Homo sapiens: one gene and its partner. The protein of the gene in region 1 purifies or fractionates together with the protein of each later gene. This does not show direct contact. Each region holds a gene or a part of one and is shown on either strand. Other genes may lie near its edges.

Region 1 (7,123 bases):
GCACTAAACACATAAAGTGTATTAAAATGTAGAAACCATATACCTTTCATTACATTATTCTACAGCTGTCATTTATTTTATTTTGGTATAAAAGTAATTATTATTCTGAGCACAATAGTATACATTTCCCTTACCCTGCACCAGCACTCCAATTACAATCTACTCCAATTCAGATTAATCATGCCAAGATGGCAATTTCATTACACTAAGAGTAAATTTTAATAGTTTAATATATGGCTATACTTTCAATGGCTAAAACTTTTTTAACTACTTTAAAGATTTTATTAAGATTAAAGTTAAACGTAATGCATCTTAATCGGATCTTTAGTAGAAAATATTCATGACAAAATATGGTTGACGATGGTCTATGTAATGCTTCTGTGGATGCATTAAACTCCACTGATAGCTTTCATCTGAAAGGCATCTAATAATGGGAAGATGCTTATCGATGTAAGATGTTTCCATTTACTTTCAATTTTGTATTATTATTTACCATCAGCCAGAACGCAAGATTATACATAGGATTACGCTTTAGTCCAAGTGACAAAATACAGTGTACAAGGGGAAAAGAGTTTATTTAGGTAAAATAAAACATAACTGGTTTCAAATAGATTTAACCCAATAGGATATAAAAGGAGTCACCAGCTCTAATTACATAGCATCTTTCTGTGTCTTAAATAGGACCTTACTGGATTAAGAAGTTATTAATGCCCCCCTAAAAAGAACTGCTTATTTACTCCTCAGCAACAAAAAGGCCTGTCAAATCAGGTACTGGCAGAGGAGAAGCAAAAAATTGTAAGCCTTTATATTTTCATTCCAAGGTTACACTGTGATCTTTAATCACTCCCTTTCCTCCAAAGTTCTGCAGTGGTTAGTTGCTTTTTCTCAAAGAAGTCAAAAAGTTTGCTGTAGTAACTTTACAGTACAGAAATAATTTATGTTTGCTTAATTATCCTTCTAAGTAAAAATATGTGTTTTCCCGGGCCAGGCGCTGTGGCTCACGCCTGCAATCCCAGTACTTTGGGAGGCTGAGGCAGGCGGATTGCTTGAGGTCAGGAGTTTGAGACCAGCCTGGGAAACATGGAGAACCCCAGTCTCTGCAAAAAAAATTAAAAACATAGCCTGGTGTGGTGGCCTGCACCTGTAGTCCCAGCTACTCGGTAGGCTGAGGTGAGAGAATTCATTGAGCCTGGCAGGTGAAAGCTGCAGTGAGTTATGACCGTGCCACTACATCCATGCCCGGGTGACAGAGTGAGACCCTATCTCAAAAAAAAAAAATAGGGAAAAAAAGTGTTTTCTAATGTGTGCATCCTTTTGGTGTATGTGAAATCAAATGACAGAATATAGTTTCTTTACAAGTGACCTTTGGTTATGGTACAAATCTATATTTTGGATTTCTTGTGCACTCAGGAACACAGTTGTGTTCTGGCAAACCACATCAGATTTAGATTCAAACAGAATGAATCTGAGAAAATTCTAAATTGCATTTAAATAGGTTGCAACGTTAATTTATATCTCCAGTAAAATTTGGAAATCATTTTATATCCTACATGCTCCACTATTAACTCTTGGAGGGTGGATGAGTTATCTTAAGTGCCAGTGAATAGCACAGAGCTTAGAACTTACATTAAATGAATTAATTTAGAAAATTTTTCAACCTGAGAAATTTCTTGGGTCATAGATGAAATTTTTCAATCAATTGTATCCCCTCGTTTGTAAAAGTGATGTAGCAGCTATGCCTATCAGTGTTTTCTAATGAAATCAATACATAAACTTATCAATCATCCACTTAATCTACTTTTGTCTCTCCTATTTGTTTCCTCTTCTGAAGACACTGGCAAATCTGGGCCTCACGGTTTTACAGATTCCATGGACTTGATAAAATTGAGTAGACATGGGACATAATCAAGTGGGGCAAATAAGCAGGTCCATCCCTGATACCAATCCCAGGAAGAAAGGGAAAAGAAAAGTTAATGAACTTCCTTTGCCCTCAGGTATACTTTACTTGCTCTTTAATTTTTGTGACTGTATTGCAAAACTGGGAGAGTGTGAAAAGCAGCTCAGACTTTGGCATCAAATCTATGTTATATCATCAGCTGCAGCCTGGGCCTTCTCACCTTTGGCCCCTTGCGCAGAGAAGAGAGGAGGTCAGATTTTGGAGAAGAGGGTAAGCACTACACCTTCATTTTCTTACTTTAGGCAAAACAGAAGTATTTACAATGCAATCATCAGCTTTGACAAACACTTTTTGAAACTAATCAATCTTTAATTTGAGAGCCAAAAAGCTTTGGTGAGATGATTACACTTAGTTCAGAACCCATGAAAGCTACAACCAGTGAGACACTGCTTTCTTTAAACAAAACAGTTTCAAATATAGAACAGTCTGTGCTTTTACAACTTACGAGGGCTCCTCTGACACAGCAGCTCCTTCTTCTAGCTCTTGAGCTTGTTTGAACCATGGCAACTTGGCCTCGACTGGAAGTTTCTCTGAGAATTCAGTGCATGCACATACAAAAGAAGAGGTTAGAACCAATCTGGGATTTTAGGAAAATTCCTTATTCTCCTCACCAAGAAGTTACTACGTTGACCAACACGAATAAGTTTTTGGGTAAATTGCTGCCTCTGATGATGGTTATATCTAGAAAAATAAAGTCGAATTTTAAAATGTTTAATAATACTAGTTTGTGTGCAAGCTTTCTCTTTATTATGATGAATAGCAAAGGAAAGTCATTTTATTATGAAAGTTGTAAGTGTAGGAGCACTAGCTCAATATGCATATAAAGAATCATCGAAGTATCTTTTTACCATTCCCTCTTGAAAAGATAGAGCAGCATTTACCTTGGAAAACAAAGTACAGTCAATTATATTGTGATATTTTCATAAATTCTAACTTTTTTTTTTTTGCCTTTTAGCTAAGTGTGATCTATGTCACATTGCCAAAAACAAACTCTTTCACTCTGAAATTCACAAAACATTGATTTAGATATCTGACTCATTCAGTACTACCCCAAGGCTCACTGACAATTGGAATATGTGCAAATGAGGGTTCATAACACATAATTTGACTTATTTCACCTATTTATCTAGCTTTGGCCAAACAATTCAAAACAAACTTCCTAGTTACTTCCTGGGAAAAAAATTGTGGAGGAGAAAAATGAAGAGGGATGTTCTAACGGCTCTTACAGAAGTAACTGCCAAGATTCCCATTCTAGCATATTTATTAGGGTCATTTATGGGGATATTTGCCTTTATAGTATGAGCCAATGATGCTCTATCACCATTTTATAACATACAATTGCAAAGATGAAAGAAATATGTCTATACATATATGCACCATAGAATTATATGGTATTTTAATGATGTTTAGAGAGCCAGGCTCACTCCTTGGTTGTGAAAATCCAGACTTGATTCTTGATAGTTAACTGCAAACTGCTTTTCTTTCTCTGAAGTGGCTTGGTAAAGATAAAGCTAATAAACAATTGACTATTTTAAGTTAGGGGCATCACTTCTTGTTCTCTATGCACAGCAATTATTTATAGTCAAAAAACAAAGCAAGTGAGAAATATAAAACTGCCAAAGCCAAAATGATTTGCTAACATTTTAAACACAGCAACACCGTACCTATACATACATCATTTTACAACTACTCCAACTATCCCAGTAAATGACTCAGTCGGCTGGGCGTGGAGGCTCACGCCTGTAATCCTAGCACTTTGGGAGGCCGAGGCGATTACCTGAGCTCAGGAGTTCGAGACCAGCCTGGGCAACAAGGTGAAACCCCGTCTCTACCAAAAAAAAAAAATACAAAAAATTAGCTGGGCACGGCAGCATGCGCCTGTAATCCCAGTTACTCCGGAGGCTGAAGTAGGAGAATCGCCTCAGCCTGGGAGGCAGAGGTTGCAGTGAGCCGAGATCACGCCACTGAACTCCAGCCTGGGCAACAGAGTGAGACTCCGTCTCAAAAAAAAAAAACAAAAAAAACCTCAGTAAATGAAGCTGTCTCTGGTGGCATAGTTAGCTCTCTGTCTTTCAATAAGGAAGCATTCAGTTTGGCACTCATAGTAAGCTTGTAATACTTTATTGCTGTTTTGAACTAAATCCTGTCAGACGCACCTGTGGCAACCTCCTCCCATAGTTGAGGGCACTGACGATAGTCAGGAGTTAAAAGTAACTTACTGTATGTAGAAGTTACTATATTGCAGGCACTAGGTTAACCACCCTGTTTATGTTATATCTCATTTAACCTACGCATGATCTCTGATTTAGATACTATTATTACACCCATTTTACAGAGGAGGAAACCAAGGCTTCGAGAGAGATGCATTTATTAAAGTTAATCAGGATTTCTGTTTTTTTTTGTTTCCTTTTATATCATTAATTTAGATTTTATGATGCCATTCAGTTGCAATTAGGGCCACCTATAGTATAATAAAGAGCTACACTGTGACTGATTTTTCAGAGAAATTTAATGGCTTAAAAAATAAAGAAATGGGAGCCATATTTAATATTAAAAATTAAAGGGGGTTTAAAGAGTTCTTTACTTCTGAATGGTTTGTGACTTTGAATTTTTCTTTTCCATTGACACAGACAAGTAACAATACTTGTACAGAAATCAAATTCATATTCTTGCTAATCTGAGATATCCAGTGTAATTATAAGTCTGGCTCACTAAATGCTTAGTTCTACACTTTCCTAAAATTTCTTTTTTATAAATTATTGCAATATCTTTTAAATTCTGATATATTTTAAATTATGGTTCTGGAATTCAGTCTCATATTAATGTTTTAATTTTCAATATAAAAAGTGACAGTTTTCTGTTTCATCAGTTTGAAGTATGAGACTTCCCAATGTACTTCAGCCTTAGCAAAATAGACATACTTGGATTCACTCCCTTGTTTTTAAAGGCAAGAAATGTGGATAGTAAATCAAACATATATTTCTAGAATATCTGGTCTCCCTTTAAGCAGGTACATCCGTATTCTTCAGCAATAGTCCTCAAACAACTTTATGACTTGGGAGATAATTATATAAATATATTTCTACATGTAGTGGTTAATGAAATTTTGCAATCAAAATCACTTGAAAGATTCTTTAAGATAATCAAATTCCTTTAGTAGAGTTTAAGTTATAAAGAATTCTTACTAAGAATACTTGGGATACTTAAAAATATTCCAAGGAGTTTAAAACACACCTGACTACACACAACAATTAACAGGCTGGTAATAGAGCACCTGTCAAGTTACCTTTGGGTTTATAGCAGGGAGTGGGTACGATGCATTCCTCTTTTATGTGGGGCTTTGTTTTTGGGCTACAGCCTCCTGTGTGCATTCCTCGATGGTCGATGCAGAGGACCACACGGTATCTGAGGCCCTGGCCACATGTCACTGTGCACTGGAAAGAGATTGCAAGAGAGAGGAGACTCGTAGGCAAAGCCTTGTTTACTTTTCTTCACTTCCCATCGAAAACTTTTAATCTAAGTTTTCTTTTTCCCCGCCCCCCCCCCCCACACGAGGACTCCTGGTAAATTTATACCACTTCTTACCAGTCAAGGGATCTTTGTTCTATTTGGCTATTTGAGGTGAAGCTCGCTGAAAATTAAATCACTTTCAATTCCATAGCTTTGGATTAATCAGTCAGCAATCTTTAAGTACCCACTGTGTGCAAAGTCTCAAACCAAGCACCAAAAAGAAGAAAGGAGAAAAGAGACTGTAGAGTGTGCTTAATTTTGACTACCAGCACTGTATTTTATTTAGTTACTTTGCTAATGACCGCTACTTCCAAAAATATGGGAAATACCCCTACATGGATATCAAAAAATTTAAACTACGATTATAGCTAAATTATATTGCAGCATTGTTAATCCAATTGATTACATTGAAAGGCAAAAATAACATTTAAAAAAACAGATTGAATGACCAGATGCCCAATGTAGATTGCACCTCTAATGGTTCCCCATGTCTGGTAGCATGTCTAGATGTAGAAAATGTCACAGCTCTGATCTGCTGCCATGAAGCCACAGGGCTCAGTGAAGAGTCTTTTGTCATTTCTGAGGCGGAGGGCACAATGGCTTATTTCATCTTTCTGTTTCCTTTACGATTTTCCTTTCTGCATTAGCAGTCAGGAAACCCTGAATGACATTTTATGTTTAATTACAGCAGGTTTCCTAACATCTATAAGTTTTTTGTTTTAATTATCTTACTTCGTTCCAATTTTAATTTTTGTGCTATTTTCATTTCCTCTTCCCCCTTCTCCAATGATTAATATACATAGTTTTAATATTAATCCACTTAGACCCTTTCGGATACAAAGCATAATACATACAAAATGAAATCAAACTTCTGGTCTACTGAGCTCTATCATCAAAGCAGCTTTTACAGATTCGGGATCATTCATTCAGCCTCAATTACCCTTGAAAGGCAGTTGCTTCCCCGTGCTATTTGAGGGAACATTATCTGGGGAACAATAGAGGCTTCTTGAAGAAACTTGAAGAAAGACACTTTAAAAAAACATCATTTACTTTTGGTCATGCTGGATTTGGGGCATTCCTACTCCAGGAGCTAAGCTGGTAGGCTTCTAGACACCTCAAGAAGAGTGTGGAGCTGCTCAGGGTACCCGGTGGGGCCATGATGATGAGAGGGAAGAGTGGACTTACTCTCCTAATGAACAAAGAAAGAAGGCACAGTTACCGGAGACCACTCCTGTGCCAGCCATTTAGGGCAGTCAAAAATGTTGCAGGGCTGCGCGATGGGCATCTTAGGGGTGTACATGCATTTCCACTCTTCCACTGAAGTGACATGCCCCTGGATGTCCTCCTCCACACAGGAAACTGCCCGGCTCTGGATGCCCCCCCCACACGAGGAGGAGCACGCGGTCCATGGGGTGGCCTCCCACCTACAGAAGCAAGGGGAGTCATCAGGGCAGACATGCACATTGCTAAGCCTCCTCAGTGACTGGTCCACCAACCCACTCCCCATGTCTATTGGTATAATCAGGTTCTGAGAGGCTAAGGTCCAGAAAACCAAAAGCCATCTATTGCCTGAAACCTGATGAGTAAGAGAGAAGGATTCAACATTGGCAAAAGGGCTCTGCAAACCGTGAAGCTCTATACAAATGTAAGCCATTA
Region 2 (7,000 bases), on another chromosome or scaffold:
TTATTTATTTATTTTTTGAGACGGAGTCTCACTGTTGTTACCCAGGCTAGAGCGCAATGGCGCAATCTCAGCTCACCACAACTTCCACCTCCCAGGTTCAAAAGCTTCTCCTGCCTCAGCCTCCCTAGTAGCTGGGATTACAGGCACGCACCATCACACCCAGGTAATTTTGTATTTTTAGTACGGACGGGGTTTCTCCATGTTGGTCAGGCTGGTCTCGAACTCCCGACCTCAGGTGATCCACCCACGCTGGCCTCCCAAAGTGCTGGGATTACAGGCGTGAGCCACCGTGCCTGGCCAGAACACAGCTTTCATAAAGTTTATATTATTATCACTAATATTGGTGAAATTTAGCCCAAATCCCCAGGGAAGCAAGTCTCATGAGAAGTCCAACAGGGAAGAGAATCACTTGGGCAGAGGGAAGAGGAGACTGTTAAGCCTAGGGAGAGAGGGCAACGGAGTGCGGTAAAGACTGATGACTTAAAAATCAAGTTTACTACCTCTTTCCAGTTTCAAAGAAAGGTGCATTATTTCATATTTAAGTGTTAATGATGGCAATTTGCCAGGATACTGCATCAGCTTCAAGGATAACTATGTATCATACAATCTCTATATTCCTAAATAGATGGTAATACGAAACAAGGCAATGTGACCCCAGTCCATGGGTGAGGAATAAAGAAAGAAAGGAACGAAAGGAATGGAGGAAGGGAAGAAGACAGAAAGAGAGCGAGAAAGAGGCCGGGTGCAGTGGCTTACACTTCTAATCCCAGCACTTTGGGAGGCCGAGGTGGGCAGATCGCCTGAGGTCAGGAGTTCAAGACCAGCCTGGCCAACATGGTGAAACCCTGTCTCTACTAAAAATATAAATATTAGCCAGGTATGGTGGTGCACACCTGTGATCCCAGCTACTCAGGAGGCTGAGGCAGGAGAATCACTTCAACCAGGGGGAGGTGGAGGTTGCAGTGAGCCGAGATTGTACCATTGCACCACTCCAGCTTGGGCAACATGAGACTCCTTCAAAAAAAAAAAAAAAAAGAGGAAGGAAGGAAGGAAGTGAGCAAGCAAGCAAACAAGGAAAACAAAGCAAGAAGAATCTCCAGAAATGGCCACATCTTGAAATGATTACATATCTGTGAAGAGCAAACAAACGACCTGTTTTGTGGCCTAAAGAAACATATGGTCAGGATGATAACATGGACCCAGTTCCCCAGGCTGTTCCTTTGATCCCAGAACTCCAGGGAGGTGAGCCTATCACCCAGGTTCAGGCCTCTGCCTTTGATTATGGCTCCCAGACCCACAGGGCAGGTGTATATCCGAGTTTCTTCGTGTCCTTAGAGGAAAGAAGACACACTCTAGAAAGAAGGATAATGCTGGTGACTGAGACTTTCTGTAGGTGACTGAATTTTAGGATTTGGAAGGAACATGGAGTGAACCTGAATACTTCTGAGCCCCTTCACTTCTCAGCAGCTACCCAGAAGTGAAAGAATCCCAAACCCAAAGTTACAGCTACTTCTGTGAGACCGCGTTAGATAATCACTGTTCACTGTTGATCCATTTTCCAAAGTCTCAGAATTTAAATAGTTAGATCTCATTCTATATAAGCTGCTCTATTGCCGATCTCCTGGACGTTGACTTTTTGTGTATTCCATATAAGATAAAACCGTCACGTGATGCAAATTAACCAACCTGACTTATTTCCAAGGAAAAGATCAGTCATCAACCAAGAACAGCAATATGAATTAGCAAAATTCCAGCAAGAAAAAAGACTAATCTTAGGACACTGTTCTCTAAACCACAGAGATTAAGACAACGTTGGTTTAAATACAAGAAAATACCCAAAACTAGCTGGGCATGATGGCTCACGCCTATAATCCCAGCACTTTGGGAGGCCGAGGCGGGCAGATCACCTAAGGTCGGGAGTTCGAGACCAGCCTGACCAACATGGAGAAACCCCGTCTCTACTGAAAATACAAAATTAGCCGGGCATGGTGGCACACGCCTCTAATCCCAGCTACTAGGGAGGGAGAGGCAGGAGAATCACTTGAACCTGGGAGGCGGAGGTTGCGGGGAGCCGAGATCGCGCCATTGCACTCCAGCCTGGGCAACAAGAGCAAAACTCTGTCTCAAAAAAAAAAAAAAAAATACCCAAAACTAAAAGCAATAAGGGAACGAAAACTCTAACAAATGCAAACTTGCCCACAGCCATATAGGATCTCTGTCCAACTTCTGTTTGCCTCAAACCAGTATAGTTCAAGTCTTCCTTTCTTCCTCTCTCCTTTCAAAAATTAGGGCAGGCCGGGCGTGGTGACTCACACCTGTAATCCCAGCACTTTGGGAGGCTGAGACAGGTGGATCACCTGAGGTAAGGAGTTTGAGACCAGCCTGGCCAAAATGGCCAAACCCCATCTCTACTAAAAATAACAAAATTAGCCGGGCATGGTGGCAGGTGCCTGTAATCCCAGCTACTCAGGAGGCTGAGGCAGGAGAATCCCTTGAACCCAGGAGGTGGAGGTTGCAGTGAGCTGAGATCACTCCACTGCACTTCAGCCTGGGGCACAGGATGAGACTCTGACTCAAAAAAAAAAAAAAAAATTAGGGCAAATATATATTTGTGATATTACTTTATAAATGAGGCAGAAGCATTAGACCAACAAGAGGTAAGAGGTATACTTAACAAATCCATTAGCCTCAGACTATTTCACATCTTATGCCTCCTATGAACAGCATGACTGTTAAGTCGAATAAATTCTATAATGATGAATACTGAAACAGAGTTCTGTACCACAAAGCTACTTCAAAATTACAACACACACACACACCACGCATGCATGTACACAAACACACAGATACTCCAAGCGAGGAGGACTACATAAAGAATCTTATCTCTCAGGCCGGGTGCAGTGGCTCATGCCTTGTAATCCCAGGACTTTGGGAGGGCAGATCACGAGGTCAGGAGATCAAGACCATCCTGGCTTACACGGTGAAACCCCGTCTCTACTAAAATACAAAAAATTAGCCGGGCGTGGTGGCGGGCACCTGTAGTCCCAGCTACTGAGGAGCTGAGGCAGGAGAATGGCGTGAACCCAGGAGGCGGAGCTTGCACCGAGCCGAGATGGCACAACTGCACTCCAGCCTGGGCGACAGAGTGAGACTCTGTCTCCAAAAAAAAAAAAAAAAAGGAAGGATCTGTCAGCCAGGCGCGGTGGCTCACGCCTGTAGCCTGTAATCCCAGCACTTTGGGAAGCCAAGGTGGACAGATCACCTGAGGTCAGGAGTTAAAGACCAGCCTGGCCAACATGGAGAAACCACGTCTCTACTAAAAATACAAAATCAGCCGGGCGTGGTGGTGAGCACCTGTAATTCCAGCTACTCGGGAGGCTCGGGCAGGAGAGTCACTTGAACCCAGAGGCGGAGGTTGCAGTGAGCTGAGATCATGCCATTGCACTCCAGCCTGGGCAAAAAAAGCAAAACTCTGTCTCAAAAAAAAAAAAAAAAAAAAGAATCTTATCTTCCTTTACAAACCTTTCTTTCAGGCTTATAATTTCAGTACTGACCATCTTGAAGTTGAAGTCTTGAGTGTTTAGTAAAGTGTCTGGAACATCAAACCATGACCAGAAAGCTGCAGTACCCATGGAGATGACAATAAATAACATTTTCCTTAAACCAATTCACACACTGAAATCAGCAATCAAACACAAAATGATGTTTCCCTGATATCTGCATCCCTTTTTCTTTCCCTTTCTTTACTCCTGCCATTTTGATAATTAGACATGAGGCTGGGCAGTTCAAATTCCAAACACTCAAACCTGCCAATGGCCTTGTCTATGAAAACAAACCTATTTCACATTAAGATCAAAAGCAAAACTTTTTGAAGGAAGCCAGATATTTAGGAACAATTTAACAAAGAATTACTGGCAACACAAGAGTTCCCAGACATGTAGGGGAAAAAATGTCTAAAAAGACTGAAGTCAGATGAAGAGAATCATGGACTTTTTTCCAAACTGCCTTATAACCCTGCTAGTGGGCAATGAGATGAGACAGGTAGCTGCCACTGCCTGCTGCCCCCATTAAAATCCACAGCTTTAACTGCATTAGAGCAGAGAGGCGCTTTCCAGATATTGCTGAGGCACTAACCCTCTGAAGAATTTCCAACAAAGTCTTTACTCATTAGACCCAGAGTAACATAATGGGGTTCCCCGCTGCACTGTAAACCCCATCTTTTCAAGCTGTTCAATAATAAAAGGCTTTAGGAAATAACAGTGAATGACGTTTATAGGCCAGAGCCCTGGACCAGTTTCCAGGGAAAATGTCTAGGAGAAAACAAGAAGTTGAATTTTGACTTAACAACTTAAAAATAGAATCCCAAACAGGTAGCAGCAGAAAAAAGTCAAATGCCAGCAATCACTGTTAACTGATGTCCTGAGGTGGGTTACCCACAGACCCTCAATGTGGACTAACCGTGGCCCATTTCCGTCTGGGCGTAGGTGCCAATTATCTGGAGTCCTTTGGATGAAAGCAGCCATTTCTCTTTCTGAGCAGTGGTGCCCTGATTCAGCAAGGTAGGAATAAACATGGAGTAATTGAGGCCCACAGGTTCCACAAAATTGACCAAATGTAGTCTACAGGAGAGAAGAGAAAAGGATCTCAGCCTTCCTTTAGAAACTGCATCCTACAACCCCTTCTTGCCAAACAGCTTTGGCCTTCAAGGAGAAGGTCAGGAAAATGTAAACCCCCTTCTTATGAAATTAAATATAAGATTTACCATTTTACTACCTAAAAAGCCAGCAGCAGAACCTGATGATCTCTCTTCTTCTAATTATTTCAAGGCCACAGTTCCCACAGTTCATTTCGTATTTACATTTAATCCACTAAGCAAATTCTACCTAAGTTTTAGCATAAAAACTTCTCTAATTTTTGGAAGGGGAGGTTGTTGGTGTTATTTGCTGGTTTGATTGGTTGAATTTTTTAGAATGTGTGTGGTTTTTTTTTTTTGCTTTATTTAGGTTTTACCTGTTTGTTTCAAAGAGCAAAAATAACTCCATAGAACACTTATTTATAGCGCTGTTAACAAGAGCTCCAAGGAAGAAATAATTTCAACTATGTTTCCCTAGATAATATAAGCAAATATCCAAAAGAGTAAATACATATTCCAGGGCAGAATCATACATCGCTAAAGGTCTTCAGGGTTTACAATAAGTAATGTGGGCATGTAAAAATTTATCCCCAATGGTCAATGAACATTACTACGGATTAACTCTACATCACATTGAAATTTAGTCCTCAACTCTCTTCTTACAAAACAGAATCCACAGTAGTTGGCCTTGGCTGTGCTGTGTCATAGATTTTATAGGGATCAATTTTGTACTTTGACAAAGCTCGTATCTAAAAAGTTTAAAGTACAAAATACATCTCATCTAACTGATCTTCACGACTTCTCAACACATGATTAGGAAGCAATGTTACTACCAGTTTATCCTAACCTGTGCAATGAGCAGAGCATGAACTAAAGGACAGAAGGGATAGGCTGCCATTGCAGTGCTGGGGGACCCTGAAACCAAACTACCACCTTAAAAGAAATAATAGTAGCCGGGCGCGGTGGCTCACGCCTGTAATCCCAGCACGTTGGGAGGCCAAGGCGGGTGGATCACGAGGTCAGGAGATCGAGACCATCAGATCGAGACCATCCTGGCTAACATGGTGAAACCCCGTCTCTACGAAAAATACAAAAAAAAAATTAGCCGGGTGTGGTGGTGGGCTCCTGTAGTCCCAGCTACTCAGGAGGCTGAGGCGGGAGAATGGCGTGAACCCGGGAGGCGGAGCTTGTAGTGAGCCGAGATCGCACCACTGCACTCCAGCCTGGGCGACAGAGCGAGACTCTGTCTCCAAAAAAAAAAAAAAAAAAAAAAAGAAAGAAAGAAAGAAATAATAGTAAACACAATATACCCTTATTTTTCTATTTCCTAAATAAGTACTACACGGTTATCCCCGCCATTTCTTTTTTTTTCTTTTTTGGAGACAGTCTCCCTCTGTTGCCCAGGCTGGAGTACAGTGGTGTGATCCCAGCTCACGGCAACCTCTGCCTCCTAGGTTCAAGTGATTCTCATGCCTCAGCCTCCCAAGTAGCTGGGATTATAGGCGTGTGCCACCAAGCCCGGTTAATTTTGTATTTTAGTAGAGAAGGCGTTTTGCCATGTTGGCCAGGCTGGTCATGAAGTGGCCTGGCCTCAAGTGATCTGCCCACCTCAGCCACCCAAAGTGCTGGGATTACAGGCGTGAGCCACCATGCCCCAGTCCCATTGTCTTTTCTATCTTACATAAATCATAATCCACTTAGAAACAAAAAACTCTCAACATGGATGCTCTTAGATACGAATATTTCTAATTAATCAAAATGAATTAATGTAATCATTATAGATTCCACCAGAGGGAACGACTTCTGCGTCCTAATCATGTGTTTAGAAGCTGCTCATTAACATCAGTTAAAAATGTTTTCTCAGCCAGGCGCAGTGGCTTATGCCTGTAATCCCAGCATTTTGGGAGGAAGGGGCGGGTGGATCACAAGGCCAGGAGTTCGAGACCAGCCTGGCCAACATGGTGAAACCCCATTTCTACTAAAAATACAAAAGTTAGCTGGGTGAGGTGGCAGATGCCTCTTCACCTGCTGATAATGGAAATAAATGGAAATGCAGAGAGAGAGAGAGAGAGAGAAAGAAAGAGAGAGAAAGAAAAAGAAAGAGGAAGAGAAAGAGAAAGAAAAAGAAAGGAAAAGAAAGAAAAGAAAAGAAAGAAAGAAAGAAAAGAAAAGAAAGAAAGGTGATGTATTTCACAATTAATAGCATGTCACGGTTAACTGGCAGCATTCTTTCTTTCTTAGTGGTACACAAAACACTGGTGTGAGTTATAATCGATGAGATTATATAACCGAGGCTTTAACTCGATAGCATGCGATAATTTCCAGGACTCATTTACAAACCCCTTCTCTTACTTAAAAACTGATCTC

What was found.
Region 2: the proteins of ADAMTSL1 (region 1) and ACOX1 purify together in Homo sapiens (affinity purification with mass spectrometry; 2 studies listed by BioGRID and IntAct, with this or other methods). This does not show direct contact.

Annotation. Positions count from the first base shown.
Region 1 is NC_000009.12:18,680,080-18,687,202, reverse strand, and holds part of ADAMTSL1 (ADAMTS-like protein 1 isoform 4 precursor), read right to left. Parts: intron 6,892-7,123; coding exon 6,687-6,891; intron 5,392-6,686; coding exon 5,244-5,391; intron 2,488-5,243; coding exon 2,403-2,487; coding exon of another isoform or gene 2,399-2,402; exon of another isoform or gene 2,246-2,398; intron 1-2,245.
Region 2 is NC_000017.11:75,969,167-75,976,166, forward strand, and holds part of ACOX1 (peroxisomal acyl-coenzyme A oxidase 1), read right to left. Parts: intron 4,620-7,000; coding exon of another isoform or gene 4,459-4,619; intron 1-4,458. UniProt on the Homo sapiens protein: Involved in the initial and rate-limiting step of peroxisomal beta-oxidation of straight-chain saturated and unsaturated very-long-chain fatty acids.